2 linked regions of the Homo sapiens genome follow. The protein of the gene in region 1 purifies or fractionates together with the protein of each later gene. This does not show direct contact. Each region holds a gene or a part of one and is shown in the gene's direction. Other genes may lie near its edges.

Evidence for each region.
Region 2: the proteins of EIF2AK3 (region 1) and TBL2 purify together in Homo sapiens (affinity purification with western blotting; 3 studies listed by BioGRID). This does not show direct contact.

What each region holds. Positions count from the first base shown.
Region 1 is NC_000002.12:88,556,241-88,561,464, reverse strand, and holds the end of EIF2AK3 (eukaryotic translation initiation factor 2-alpha kinase 3 isoform 1 precursor), read left to right. Parts: intron 1-2,485; coding exon 2,486-2,548; intron 2,549-3,528; coding exon 3,529-3,729; 3' UTR 3,730-4,724; downstream 4,725-5,224. UniProt on the Homo sapiens protein: Metabolic-stress sensing protein kinase that phosphorylates the alpha subunit of eukaryotic translation initiation factor 2 (EIF2S1/eIF-2-alpha) in response to various stress, such as unfolded protein response (UPR).
Region 2 is NC_000007.14:73,568,558-73,576,085, reverse strand, and holds part of TBL2 (transducin beta-like protein 2), read left to right. Parts: intron 1-1,572; coding exon 1,573-1,703; intron 1,704-1,963; coding exon 1,964-2,148; intron 2,149-2,614; coding exon 2,615-2,766; intron 2,767-3,115; coding exon 3,116-3,242; intron 3,243-4,050; coding exon of another isoform or gene 4,051-4,138; exon of another isoform or gene 4,139-4,331; intron 4,332-4,744; coding exon 4,745-4,897; intron 4,898-5,113; coding exon 5,114-5,579; 3' UTR 5,580-7,528.

The sequences.
Region 1 (5,224 bases):
ACGGTAAAACCCCATCTCTGCTAAAAATACAAAAAATTAGCCGGGCATGGTGGCACGTGCCTGTAGTCCCAGCTACTCTGGAGGCTGAGGCAGGAGAATGGTGTGAACCCGGGAGGCGGAGCTTGCATTGAGCAGAGATCGCGCCACTGCACTCCAGCCTGGGTGACAGAGTGAGACTCTGTCTCGAAAAAAAAAAAAAAAGTAGCCCTCTGGCCAGGCATGGTGGCTCACACCTCTAATCCCAACACTTTGGGAGGCTCAAGCAGGAAGATCACTTGAGGCCAGAGTTCAACACCAGCCTGGGCAACATAGTAAGACCCCATCTCTACAAAAAATTTAAAAATTAGCAAGGCATGGTAGCACATGCCTTGAGAGGCTAAGGCAGGAAGATCACTATGATTGTGCCACTGCACTCCAGCCTGGGCGACACAGCAAGACCCTGTCTCTGAAAATAAAGTGGGCCTCTGTCACATTCTTCCCTATCTTTCATAAGTAGCTACCCTCACCTCTTCTAGTTGTTGTCCCTGGTACTTATCTCCATATTTTCAAAGTTTAGGCTCTTGTCACTATTTCTTATTTTATCAGTTTTAGATCTTACTTATTGATCTCTGGCCATGGTAGAAGAGGATGTAGTTCTCACATAGAGCAAAATGACTCATATCTTCTAACCGAAAGGACCTACCAAATGTTCTGTACAATGAATGAAAAAAAAAAAAAAACAGTCAAAATAACCATTTTCAGAACACCAGAAATAAAGGCCCTAAAAGCTTCCAGAAAGGAAAATAAAACAGGTCTAACCTAAGTAAAGGATCAAGAATCAGATGGCATCAAAATTTATATAGTTATAAATGCCTCAGAGAATACTGTCAAGAAAGTGAAAAGACAAGGTGGACGTGGTAGCACATGCCTGTAGTCCCAGCTACGTGGGAAGCTTGAGGCAAAAGGAATTCCTTGAGACCAGGAGTTCACGGCTACAGTAAGCTATGATTATGCCTGCAAATAGCCTGGGCACCATGAGACCCTATCTCTAAATAAATTAATTAAATGAAATAGAAAGTGAAAAGGCAGCTCACAGAATGGGAGAAAATATTTGTAAATCCTATATCCGAAAAGTGTCTAGAATTCAGAATACATAAAGAACTATTACAACTCAACAAAAAGACAACTCATTTTAAAAAGGGGCAAAGCAATAGAACTTTCTCCAAAGAGGATAAACAAATGGCCAATAAGCATGTGAAAAGATGCTCAACATCGTTGGGCATTAGGGAAATGCAAATCAAAACCACAATGAGATACCACTTCAGCACCATCTAGGGTATCTGTAATAAAAAAATTAAAAAAAAAGGAAATGTCAAGTGTTGGCTAGGATGTGGAGAAATTGGAACCCTCATACGTTGCTGGTGGAATGTAAAATGGTGCAGCTGCTTTGGAAAACAGTCTGGCAGTTCCTTAAACAGTTAAACATAGAATTACCATAGAATCCAGTAATTCTACTCCTAGGTATGTACTCAAGGGAAATGAAAACATAGACAAAAGCTTGTATACAACTGTTCATATGAGCATTATTTCTAATATCCAAAAGTAGAAACCACCAAAATGCTCATCAGCTGATGAATGGAAAAACAAAGTGTGGTATTTTATACAATGAAAAGTATTCAACCATTACAAGGAAGGAAATACTAACATGTGCCGCAACGTAGATGAATCTTGAAAACATGCTGAGTGAAAAAAGCCAGACACAAAAGTCCACTTTTATATCATTCAGTTTTTATGAAATATTCAGAAGAGGCAACTCCATAGAAACAAAGATTTCCAATATTTTCTTTGTGCTTTAATATGGCCCTTTCTCTCTCTCTCTCTCCCCTTTCTCTTTCTCCCTCCCTCCACACATACATATATACACATATATGTAAATGTACATACACACACACACACACACACACACACACACACAGTCATCTTGGTATCCACAGGGGATTGGTTCCAGGACTCCCTGTGGATACCAAATCTGCAGATGCTCAAGTCCCTTATATAAAATGGTGTAATATTTGTATAGAACCTACATATATTCTGTGTATTTTAAATCTTCTGTAAATTACAGTACCTAACATAATGTAAATTCTATGTAAATAAGTATTATACTGTATTGATGAGGGAATAATGACAAGAAAAAAATCTGTATCTGTCCAGTACAGATGCAACCATCTATTTTTAAATTTTTTAAATATTTTCATTCTGTGGTTGGTTGAATCCTTGGATGTGGAATCTGTGGATGTGGAAGACCAGCTGTATATTTTGAGGATATTTGATGGAGTGTACATCTGTGCTCAGGAAACATATGTAGTTATTAAATCAGGAAAAGCTATTGATAAATTTTCCATTTGATAGATGTACAACCTCTTAGTCATTTTGTTAGAGTATCAAAAAATATTTTCATGTTGTATGTCAAAATAAACTTAATAAGTGATACTTTTTTTCTTTTTAGACCTTAACTGATGTAAGAAATCTCAAATTTCCACCATTATTTACTCAGAAATATCCTTGTGAGGTATGTGTAATTCTCATCTTTTATCTTCTTTAGAATCATCTTTAGAACGTAAGCGGTCCTTAGCAGTCGACTCAGTTTCCCCTATTTTACAGATGAGGAAGCCAAAGGTCTAGAGAGGAAAGAGACCTGCTCCCAAGAGCCCAGAATTTGTTAAAACCAAACACTGGAGCTGGGGCCTGGCTCCTTCAGCCTAATGTCCAGTGTTCCACACTGTAGCACCTGTGAAATTTATATATTGATAAATCTTGAATTTCCTTAAGTAATTAAGTTGAAGTGAGTTAGTATGTGTTCATTTTCAAATTGGAAAAAGTCAAAATTTATCTTTCAGTATTATAATGAAGGGTTGCATTAAAAAATGGACTTTATAACAATATATTAATACCTACATATACTTAAGTCTGTTTTACTAAAAATTGTCATCATGTATTTTGCAAACTTGATGAATCTATTCCCAGGGTGGCTCATAAGAGTACATGTTACGTTCAAAGAGATTTTTAAAAACCAAGAAAAGGTGTTGGTTGCTGATCTCTGCCATAATTTTTTCTAATTAAAATTTCTATTGAGATAATTGTAGATTTACATGCAATTATAAGATGATTTTTAAAAATCATATTTATGTTTCAGGGATGTGATTAAATAATCCTTTATAATGTGTTAGAAAATCAAATTACCCAAAAATTGTCCATGTTTTTTTGGAATGAGGGTTGGCAAACTAGTGCCCACAGGTCAAATCCAGCCTGCCACCTATTTTTATAATAAAGTTCTATTGGAACACAGCCATGCCCATTAATTTACAAATTGTCTCTGGATGCTTTTGTGCATTGACGGCAGAGCTGAGTAGTTGTATCAGAGACTTGAAAACTCGAATATGGCTCAAAAGCTTAAAATATGTACAGAAATATTTTGCCAGCACTGATTTTAAAAACTGTACAGTGATCAAACCTGGCCGTTTTATCACAAAACAATTTTTATATTTTCAGTACGTGATGGTTCAAGACATGCTCTCTCCATCCCCCATGGAACGACCTGAAGCTATAAACATCATTGAAAATGCTGTATTTGAGGACTTGGACTTTCCAGGAAAAACAGTGCTCAGACAGAGGTCTCGCTCCTTGAGTTCATCGGGAACAAAACATTCAAGACAGTCCAACAACTCCCATAGCCCTTTGCCAAGCAATTAGCCTTAAGTTGTGCTAGCAACCCTAATAGGTGATGCAGATAATAGCCTACTTCTTAGAATATGCCTGTCCAAAATTGCAGACTTGAAAAGTTTGTTCTTCGCTCAATTTTTTTGTGGACTACTTTTTTTATATCAAATTTAAGCTGGATTTGGGGGCATAACCTAATTTGAGCCAACTCCTGAGTTTTGCTATACTTAAGGAAAGGGCTATCTTTGTTCTTTGTTAGTCTCTTGAAACTGGCTGCTGGCCAAGCTTTATAGCCCTCACCATTTGCCTAAGGAGGTAGCAGCAATCCCTAATATATATATATAGTGAGAACTAAAATGGATATATTTTTATAATGCAGAAGAAGGAAAGTCCCCCTGTGTGGTAACTGTATTGTTCTAGAAATATGCTTTCTAGAGATATGATGATTTTGAAACTGATTTCTAGAAAAAGCTGACTCCATTTTTGTCCCTGGCGGGTAAATTAGGAATCTGCACTATTTTGGAGGACAAGTAGCACAAACTGTATAACGGTTTATGTCCGTAGTTTTATAGTCCTATTTGTAGCATTCAATAGCTTTATTCCTTAGATGGTTCTAGGGTGGGTTTACAGCTTTTTGTACTTTTACCTCCAATAAAGGGAAAATGAAGCTTTTTATGTAAATTGGTTGAAAGGTCTAGTTTTGGGAGGAAAAAAGCCGTAGTAAGAAATGGATCATATATATTACAACTAACTTCTTCAACTATGGACTTTTTAAGCCTAATGAAATCTTAAGTGTCTTATATGTAATCCTGTAGGTTGGTACTTCCCCCAAACTGATTATAGGTAACAGTTTAATCATCTCACTTGCTAACATGTTTTTATTTTTCACTGTAAATATGTTTATGTTTTATTTATAAAAATTCTGAAATCAATCCATTTGGGTTGGTGGTGTACAGAACACACTTAAGTGTGTTAACTTGTGACTTCTTTCAAGTCTAAATGATTTAATAAAACTTTTTTTAAATTAAGTATGTTGACTCTTATTTTGAGGAGTTAGTCCCAAAATGGTAGATTTTCTAATTTATAAAATGGGATCATAGATCTAGGAAGAGTCATAAACCTATCCTCAAAAAAACTTCTTCCTAACCCATTTCAGACAGGTATCTTTTTCATCATTTCCCAAAGACTTGGCAGGCCCTTTCAAAATTCACAAGATCCATAATTGACAGACATTTGCCCAGTACCTACCCTGTGCCAAGGACTGAGAATATAGAGGACTTTCCCCTAAAGGGAGAGCTCTCAGAGAAAAGGGCTGTGGTGATGCTAGTTGTATTGATACCGAGGTGTATCTGACATGTGCCACATCGAGGCATGTGGCAGGCTGGGCTGATGGGGCATGAACCAGCTAGACACAATCTAGAAAGGTCAAAATGCATAGCATCTCCATATTACAAACAAATAATGTCTGCCACGCAAGGTTATGAGCAACTTGTACGCTGGAAAAACACTTCCCAGATCTTTGTGGCTG
Region 2 (7,528 bases), on another chromosome or scaffold:
TCTCATCCAATTCAATCTCCCTTATTTTTATTTATTTATTTATTTATTTATTTTGAGACAGAATCTCACTCTGTCGCCTAGGCTGGAATACAGTGGCACGATCACTGCATTTGAACTCCTGGGCTCAAGCAATTTTCCCTCCTCAGCCTCCGAATAGCTGGGACCACAGGCGCACACCACCATGCCCAGCTAATTAAAGTTTTCTGTAGAGATGGGGTGTCACTATGTTACCCAGGCTGGTCTCGAACTCCTGAGCTCAAGCAATCCTCCCATCTCAGCCTACCAAAATGCTGGGATCACAGGCATGAGCCACCGCCCCCAGTTCTCAACCTCTCTTTAAGAAAACCAAGGCTGGGCCGGACACAGTGGCTCACGCCTATAATCCCAGCACTTTGGGAGGCCAAGGCAGGCAGATCACTTGAGGTGAGGAGTTGGAGACAAGCCTGGCCCACATGGTGAAACCCCATCTCTACTAAAAAAACAAAAAAATTGGGGCCAGGTGCCATGGCTCACGCCTGTAATCCTAGCACTTTGGGAGGCCGAGGCGGGTGGATCACAAGGTCAGGAGATTGAGACCATTCTGGCTAATGTGGTGAAACCCCACATCTACTAAAAATACAAAAAAAAATTAGCCGGGCATGGTGGCGGGCGCCTGTAGTCCCAGCTACTTGGGAGGCTGAGGCAGGAGAATGGCGTGAACCCGGGAGGCAGAGCTTGCAGTGAGCTGAGATCACGCCACTGCACTCCAGCCTGGGTGACAGAGCGAGACTCCATCTGAAAAAAAAAAAAAAAATTAGCTGGATATGGTGGTGCACGCCCATGATCCCAGCTACTTGGAAGGCTGAGGCACAAGAATTGCTTGAACCTGGGAGGCAGAGGCTACAGTGAGCGGAGATCACGCCACTGCACTCCAGCCTGGGCGACAGAGCAAGACTCTGTCTCCAAAAAAAAGAAAGAAAGAAAAGAAAAAAAAAACCAAGGTCCAGAGCAATTCACTAACTTACCCAAAGCAGGGCCGCTAGAGATGGTTGTGCACATTACTCCCTACATAGGGATGTCTGGCCAAGGATCCACACTCCACTGGCCGTGCTGTGTACCCGCCCAGCAGCATCACCCAACCCAGAGAGTGCGCCTTTTCCACTCTACATGAAGGTGCTCTGTGGACTTACTGTAAACAGCCTCCTCAGTAGTCAGTCAGTAGTAGAGACAGAATCCAAACCCAGGTCTGATTCCAAAGCCTCTGTTTTGTTTCTGTTTTCTGTTTGTTTTTTTTTGAGACAGGGTCTTGCTCTGTCACTCAGGATGGAATGCAGTAGTGTTGTGATCATAGCTTACTGCAGCCTCGAACTCCTGGGCTCAAATGATCCAAAGCATTGGGATTACAGGCATGAGCCACCATACCCAGCCAGCCAAAGCCTCTGTTTTTGCCCATATCACACTCATTCTCCTCCAGAAGACAAGGGCCATATCTGGTTAATCTCCTGCTGTTCCACTCAATGCCTGGCTCATCATAGGTGGGCAGTAAATGCTTATCAGTGAGTAACTGGAGAACAACATGGCCCTTCCTTATAGGCCAAAAAGCAAATGGATTTCCACCTGACAAATCTTCGGGATCCAAGAAGCAGAAACAATATCAGCGGATTCGGAAGGAGAAGCCTCAACAACACAACTTCACCCACCGCCTCCTGGCTGCAGCTCTGAAGGTACGTGGGGTACCTGGCACAGCGTGCACCCTGAGACTCAGCCCCACAGGCTTTTCCTCTGGAGTATTCCATGCATGTTACAGGCTCTCCTGCCTCTGATCAGAATCAGCGGGGGTGCTTAATTCTGTCCCCTCTCATCGCAGCCCAATCTCAGCTTGCTGTTAATCCAGGCCACAGGGCCCCATCTCCCCGGCTCCAGGTTTGGCTTCCCCATCTCCCCCAGGAGCTCCTATTGACACTTCCTGCCACCCTTCCCCTAGAGCCACAGCGGGAACATATCTTGCATGGACTTTAGCAGCAATGGCAAATACCTGGCTACCTGTGCAGATGATCGCACCATCCGCATCTGGAGCACCAAGGACTTCCTGCAGCGAGAGCACCGCAGCATGAGAGCCAACGTGGAGCTGGACCACGCCACCCTGGTGCGCTTCAGCCCTGACTGCAGGTGGGACAAGACGGAGCCTCAGGTTTGCCTGCAGAGGCCTAGTCCCAGGCTTTGGCCTTCCCATATCTGCTTTGAGGTAGTGAGGAGGGACCTGGACCCAGGGCCTCCCTTGGGGTGCCAGAAAGAGCATCCACATAGTTTGCGCGCTGCCTGGGGCTCCCTGGAGATCTGGGCTGCTATACAGCAAGGAAACAGGGGGAGGTCTCTTCCTACCTGGAAATACCTTGGCCTGGCTTCCAGATGAGCCTTAGTTTCTAAACCCTAGAGAGAAACTAAAGGAGCCAAAGCTATCAGAATCTTACCTTTTGAGGAGTTTTATGAGATTTGGAACCAGGGGCTTAAGTTTTAAGGCTAGACTGTGGGGCATGAGGAGAGATCTTGACTTCCCCGAGAACCCAGCACAGGACCTGGAACACAGAGCCTCTTTGTCCAGTGAGAGCGTGACTTGTCTGCTGCCTGTCTCTAGAGCCTTCATCGTCTGGCTGGCCAACGGGGACACCCTCCGTGTCTTCAAGATGACCAAGCGGGAGGATGGGGGCTACACCTTCACAGCCACCCCAGAGGACTTCCCTAAAAAGCACAAGGCGCCTGTCATCGACATTGGCATTGCTAACACAGGTAAGAGGCATTCAGAGGGTGGCGCCTGCCCAAAGCATGAAGGAAAGATCCAGTTCTATTTCCTCAATGAGTTAATGCTGCCTGAAAGTTCTGCTCAACCTGAGAGGAACAAGGGGTCCCTGGCTCTGAACAGCCTGGCTCTGTGCTCCCCTGGAGTCCCTGGGCCACACCAGGTCCCTAGGGAAGGTGGGGAAGGGCCACAGTCTTCAGCAGAGTCCTTATCTGTAGTGACCCTTGGCCTGGGAGGAGACATGTATACTTCGGGCAGCAGAGGCCTTGTAAGTGTCTTTGGAGAGTGACAGTTGGTCAGGTCACTGCCCGTGACCCACATCACTCCCTTCCCGCTCAGGGAAGTTTATCATGACTGCCTCCAGTGACACCACTGTCCTCATCTGGAGCCTGAAGGGTCAAGTGCTGTCTACCATCAACACCAACCAGATGAACAACACACACGCTGCTGTATCTCCCTGTGGCAGGTGGGCAAGGAGGGGTATTGGCGTCTGGGACCACGAGAGGCTGGGGCTGGGGAGCAGGCACAGAACAGAGAGCCAGCTTCATCGCGTGGGAAGAGCATACGGGGTGGGGTCAGGAACCCGAGCTTCAAGTCTCAGCTCTCCCCACTTGCAGTAGTGGGATTTCATGCAGGTCGCCCCATGTCCTTAGTCGCTATTTCTTCATCTTCAGTGTTTTTGTTTTTTAGAAAATTAGTCTCACTCTGTCACCCAGGCTGGAGCACAGTGGTGCGATCATAGCTCACTGCAGCCTCAAACTCCTGGGTTGTAGCTATTCTCCCAGCTCAGCCTCCTGAGTAGTCAGGACTATAGGCATGTGCCACTGTACTCAGCTAATTTTTGTTTTTTGTTTGTTTGTTTGTTGAGACGGTTTCACCCTCGCCCAGGCAGGAGTGCAGTGGCGCAATCACAGCTCACTGTAGCCTTGACTTCCCAGGCTCAGACCATCCTCCCACCTTAGCCTCCCGAGTAGCTGGGACTACAGGCGTGCACTACCACACCTGGCTAATTTTTGTATTTTTTGTTGAGATGGGGTCTTACTATGTTGCCCAGGCTGGTCCTGAACTCCTGGCCTCAAGTGATCCTCTTGCCTCGACCTCCCAAAGTGGTAGAATTACAGGCGTGAGCCACTGTGCCAAGCCACCTTTGGGCGGGGATGTTACATATCTTAGAACAAGGCTAGAAGATAAACTGAGGTCACATACATAAAAGAACTTTTTTGTTGTGGTTGTTTGTTTGTTTTTTGAGATGGAGTTTCGCTCTTGTTGCTTAGGTTGGAGTGCAATGGCAGGATCTTGGCTCACCACAACCTCCGTCTCCCGGGTTCAAGCGATTCTCCTGCCTCAGCCTCCCCCAAGTAGCTGGGATTACAGGCATGCACCACCATGCCCAGCTAATTTTTTATTTTTAGTAGAGGTGAGGTTTCTCCATGTTGGTCAGGCTGGTCTCAAACTGTCGGACCTTAGGTGAGCTGCCCGCCTGGGCCTCCCAAAGTGCTGGGATTACAGGTATGAGCCACCACACCCGGCCTTTTTTTTTTTTTTTTTCTGAGACAGTCTCACTCTGTTGCCCAGGCTGGAGTGCAGTGGTGCAATCTCAATCTCAGCTCACTGCAACCTCCACCTACCAGGTTCAAGTGATTCTCCCACCTCAGCCTTCCCAGTAGGTGGGACTACAGGCATGCGCCACCACGCCTGGCTAATTTTGTATTTTTAGTAGAGATGAGGTTTCACCATGTTGGCCAGGCTGGTCTCGAACTCCTGACCTCAGGTGATCCACCCACCTCGGCCTCCCAAAGTGCTGGGATGACAGGCGTGAGCCACCGCGCCCGGCCAAAATAACTCTTTAAAGGTTTATATTATCCAGATATGAGGATTATCAACTTTCTCAGGAAAGAGATTGAGGGGTTTTACAGGAACAACATGCTCCGAAAATGAAGTTTTAAAGGCTTCTGGGTTGTATGGCAGATTTGTAGCCTCGTGTGGCTTCACCCCAGATGTGAAGGTTTGGGAAGTCTGCTTTGGAAAGAAGGGGGAGTTCCAGGAGGTGGTGCGAGCCTTCGAACTAAAGGGCCACTCCGCGGCTGTGCACTCGTTTGCTTTCTCCAACGACTCACGGAGGTGAGTGAATCCGCTCTGATGTCTGACCAGTGGCTCTTGGCCCCTCTTGACAACCAGGGTCCTTCTGTCTGTTTGTGCCATGGCTCTGAAGAGGGTGGGGTGCCTGGCCCTCGGCAGGAAGCTGACTTAGCTTCCTAGCTGGAGCTGCTCAAGTTGGGCCAGTGCTTACCCTGCCAGGGTGTGTTGGGGCTTGAGCTGTGATTTTCTGTGTTGCAGGATGGCTTCTGTCTCCAAGGATGGTACATGGAAACTGTGGGACACAGATGTGGAATACAAGAAGAAGCAGGACCCCTACTTGCTGAAGACAGGCCGCTTTGAAGAGGCGGCGGGTGCCGCGCCGTGCCGCCTGGCCCTCTCCCCCAACGCCCAGGTCTTGGCCTTGGCCAGTGGCAGTAGTATTCATCTCTACAATACCCGGCGGGGCGAGAAGGAGGAGTGCTTTGAGCGGGTCCATGGCGAGTGTATCGCCAACTTGTCCTTTGACATCACTGGCCGCTTTCTGGCCTCCTGTGGGGACCGGGCGGTGCGGCTGTTTCACAACACTCCTGGCCACCGAGCCATGGTGGAGGAGATGCAGGGCCACCTGAAGCGGGCCTCCAACGAGAGCACCCGCCAGAGGCTGCAGCAGCAGCTGACCCAGGCCCAAGAGACCCTGAAGAGCCTGGGTGCCCTGAAGAAGTGACTCTGGGAGGGCCCGGCGCAGAGGATTGAGGAGGAGGGATCTGGCCTCCTCATGGCACTGCTGCCATCTTTCCTCCCAGGTGGAAGCCTTTCAGAAGGAGTCTCCTGGTTTTCTTACTGGTGGCCCTGCTTCTTCCCATTGAAACTACTCTTGTCTACTTAGGTCTCTCTCTTCTTGCTGGCTGTGACTCCTCCCTGACTAGTGGCCAAGGTGCTTTTCTTCCTCCCAGGCCCAGTGGGTGGAATCTGTCCCCACCTGGCACTGAGGAGAATGGTAGAGAGGAGAGGAGAGAGAGAGAGAATGTGATTTTTGGCCTTGTGGCAGCACATCCTCACACCCAAAGAAGTTTGTAAATGTTCCAGAACAACCTAGAGAACACCTGAGTACTAAGCAGCAGTTTTGCAAGGATGGGAGACTGGGATAGCTTCCCATCACAGAACTGTGTTCCATCAAAAAGACACTAAGGGATTTCCTTCTGGGCCTCAGTTCTATTTGTAAGATGGAGAATAATCCTCTCTGTGAACTCCTTGCAAAGATGATATGAGGCTAAGAGAATATCAAGTCCCCAGGTCTGGAAGAAAAGTAGAAAAGAGTAGTACTATTGTCCAATGTCATGAAAGTGGTAAAAGTGGGAACCAGTGTGCTTTGAAACCAAATTAGAAACACATTCCTTGGGAAGGCAAAGTTTTCTGGGACTTGATCATACATTTTATATGGTTGGGACTTCTCTCTTCGGGAGATGATATCTTGTTTAAGGAGACCTCTTTTCAGTTCATCAAGTTCATCAGATATTTGAGTGCCCACTCTGTGCCCAAATAAATATGAGCTGGGGATTAAATACGAATAAGACATGGTTTCTGCCATCAAAGATGGCTGGTGGGAGAGAGAGATACACCCTTATTAAGTGCTTTGTGTTAGTTTATTCATAGCTATTGTTATATATGTCAAGGCAAGAGAGGACCAGAGCAGGACAGAGGCAATGGGTATTGAAGTTGAAGGGGTACATTTGATAAGAGAGTCGGTATTGAGAAGTTTAAATTTGTGAATTTGAAGGCTGCGTGGGTGTGGCAGGTAAGGGAAATGAGGTATCTGGGAAGGCTTGAGTGTAGGCAAATTTATTCATCCCAAGTCAAACTCTTGATCTCTCTCACGAAAACTATGACCCCCCCTGGTTGCCCCTGACCTCTCAATGTTGGAACAAGCCACAACCGTGGAGTTATCCTTGATGACTCCCCATTCATTATCCCTTCTGTCCCACCACCACAGCTGTCATCTGTTCACCAGAACGTTCTTTTGGTTACACTCCATGTGACATCCTGAGGCTGTTGCTTCTCTCCAGCTTTTCTGTTACCATCCTGGTCCTGGCTACTGTCACCTAGTGGGCCACTATAATATGGCTTCCTAATGGATCTTCCTGCTTCCTCTGTTGCCTCATTACTTTTCTATATAGCAGAATGATCTTTTGAAAATGTGAACCAGATCACATTATTCCCTAGTTAAAACCCCCCAAGGCTTCCCATCACACTTGGAATAAAATCCAAAAGAATTTTTCTAAACCAAAAATAGTAAAAACAATTTTTTTTTTCTGACAATCTCTTGTCACCCAGGCTGGAGTACAATGGCGCAATCTCGGCTCACTGCAACCGCCGCCTCCTAGGTTCAAGCGATTCTCCTGCCTCAGCCTCCAGAGTAGCTGGGATTACAGGCATGTGCCACCACGCCTGGCTAATTTTTGTATTTTTAGTAGAGACAGGGTTTCACGATGTTGGCCAGGCTGCTCTCGAACTCCTGACCTCAAATGATCCACCACCCCCCTTGGCCTCCCCAAGTGCTGGGATTACAGGTGTGAGCCATCGTGCCTAGCTAAAAACACTTAATCCAAAATTCTTACCATGGCCTGCAAGGTCCTGTGTAACCTGGCTTCGTCCCCCCTCTAAATGCTATGAATG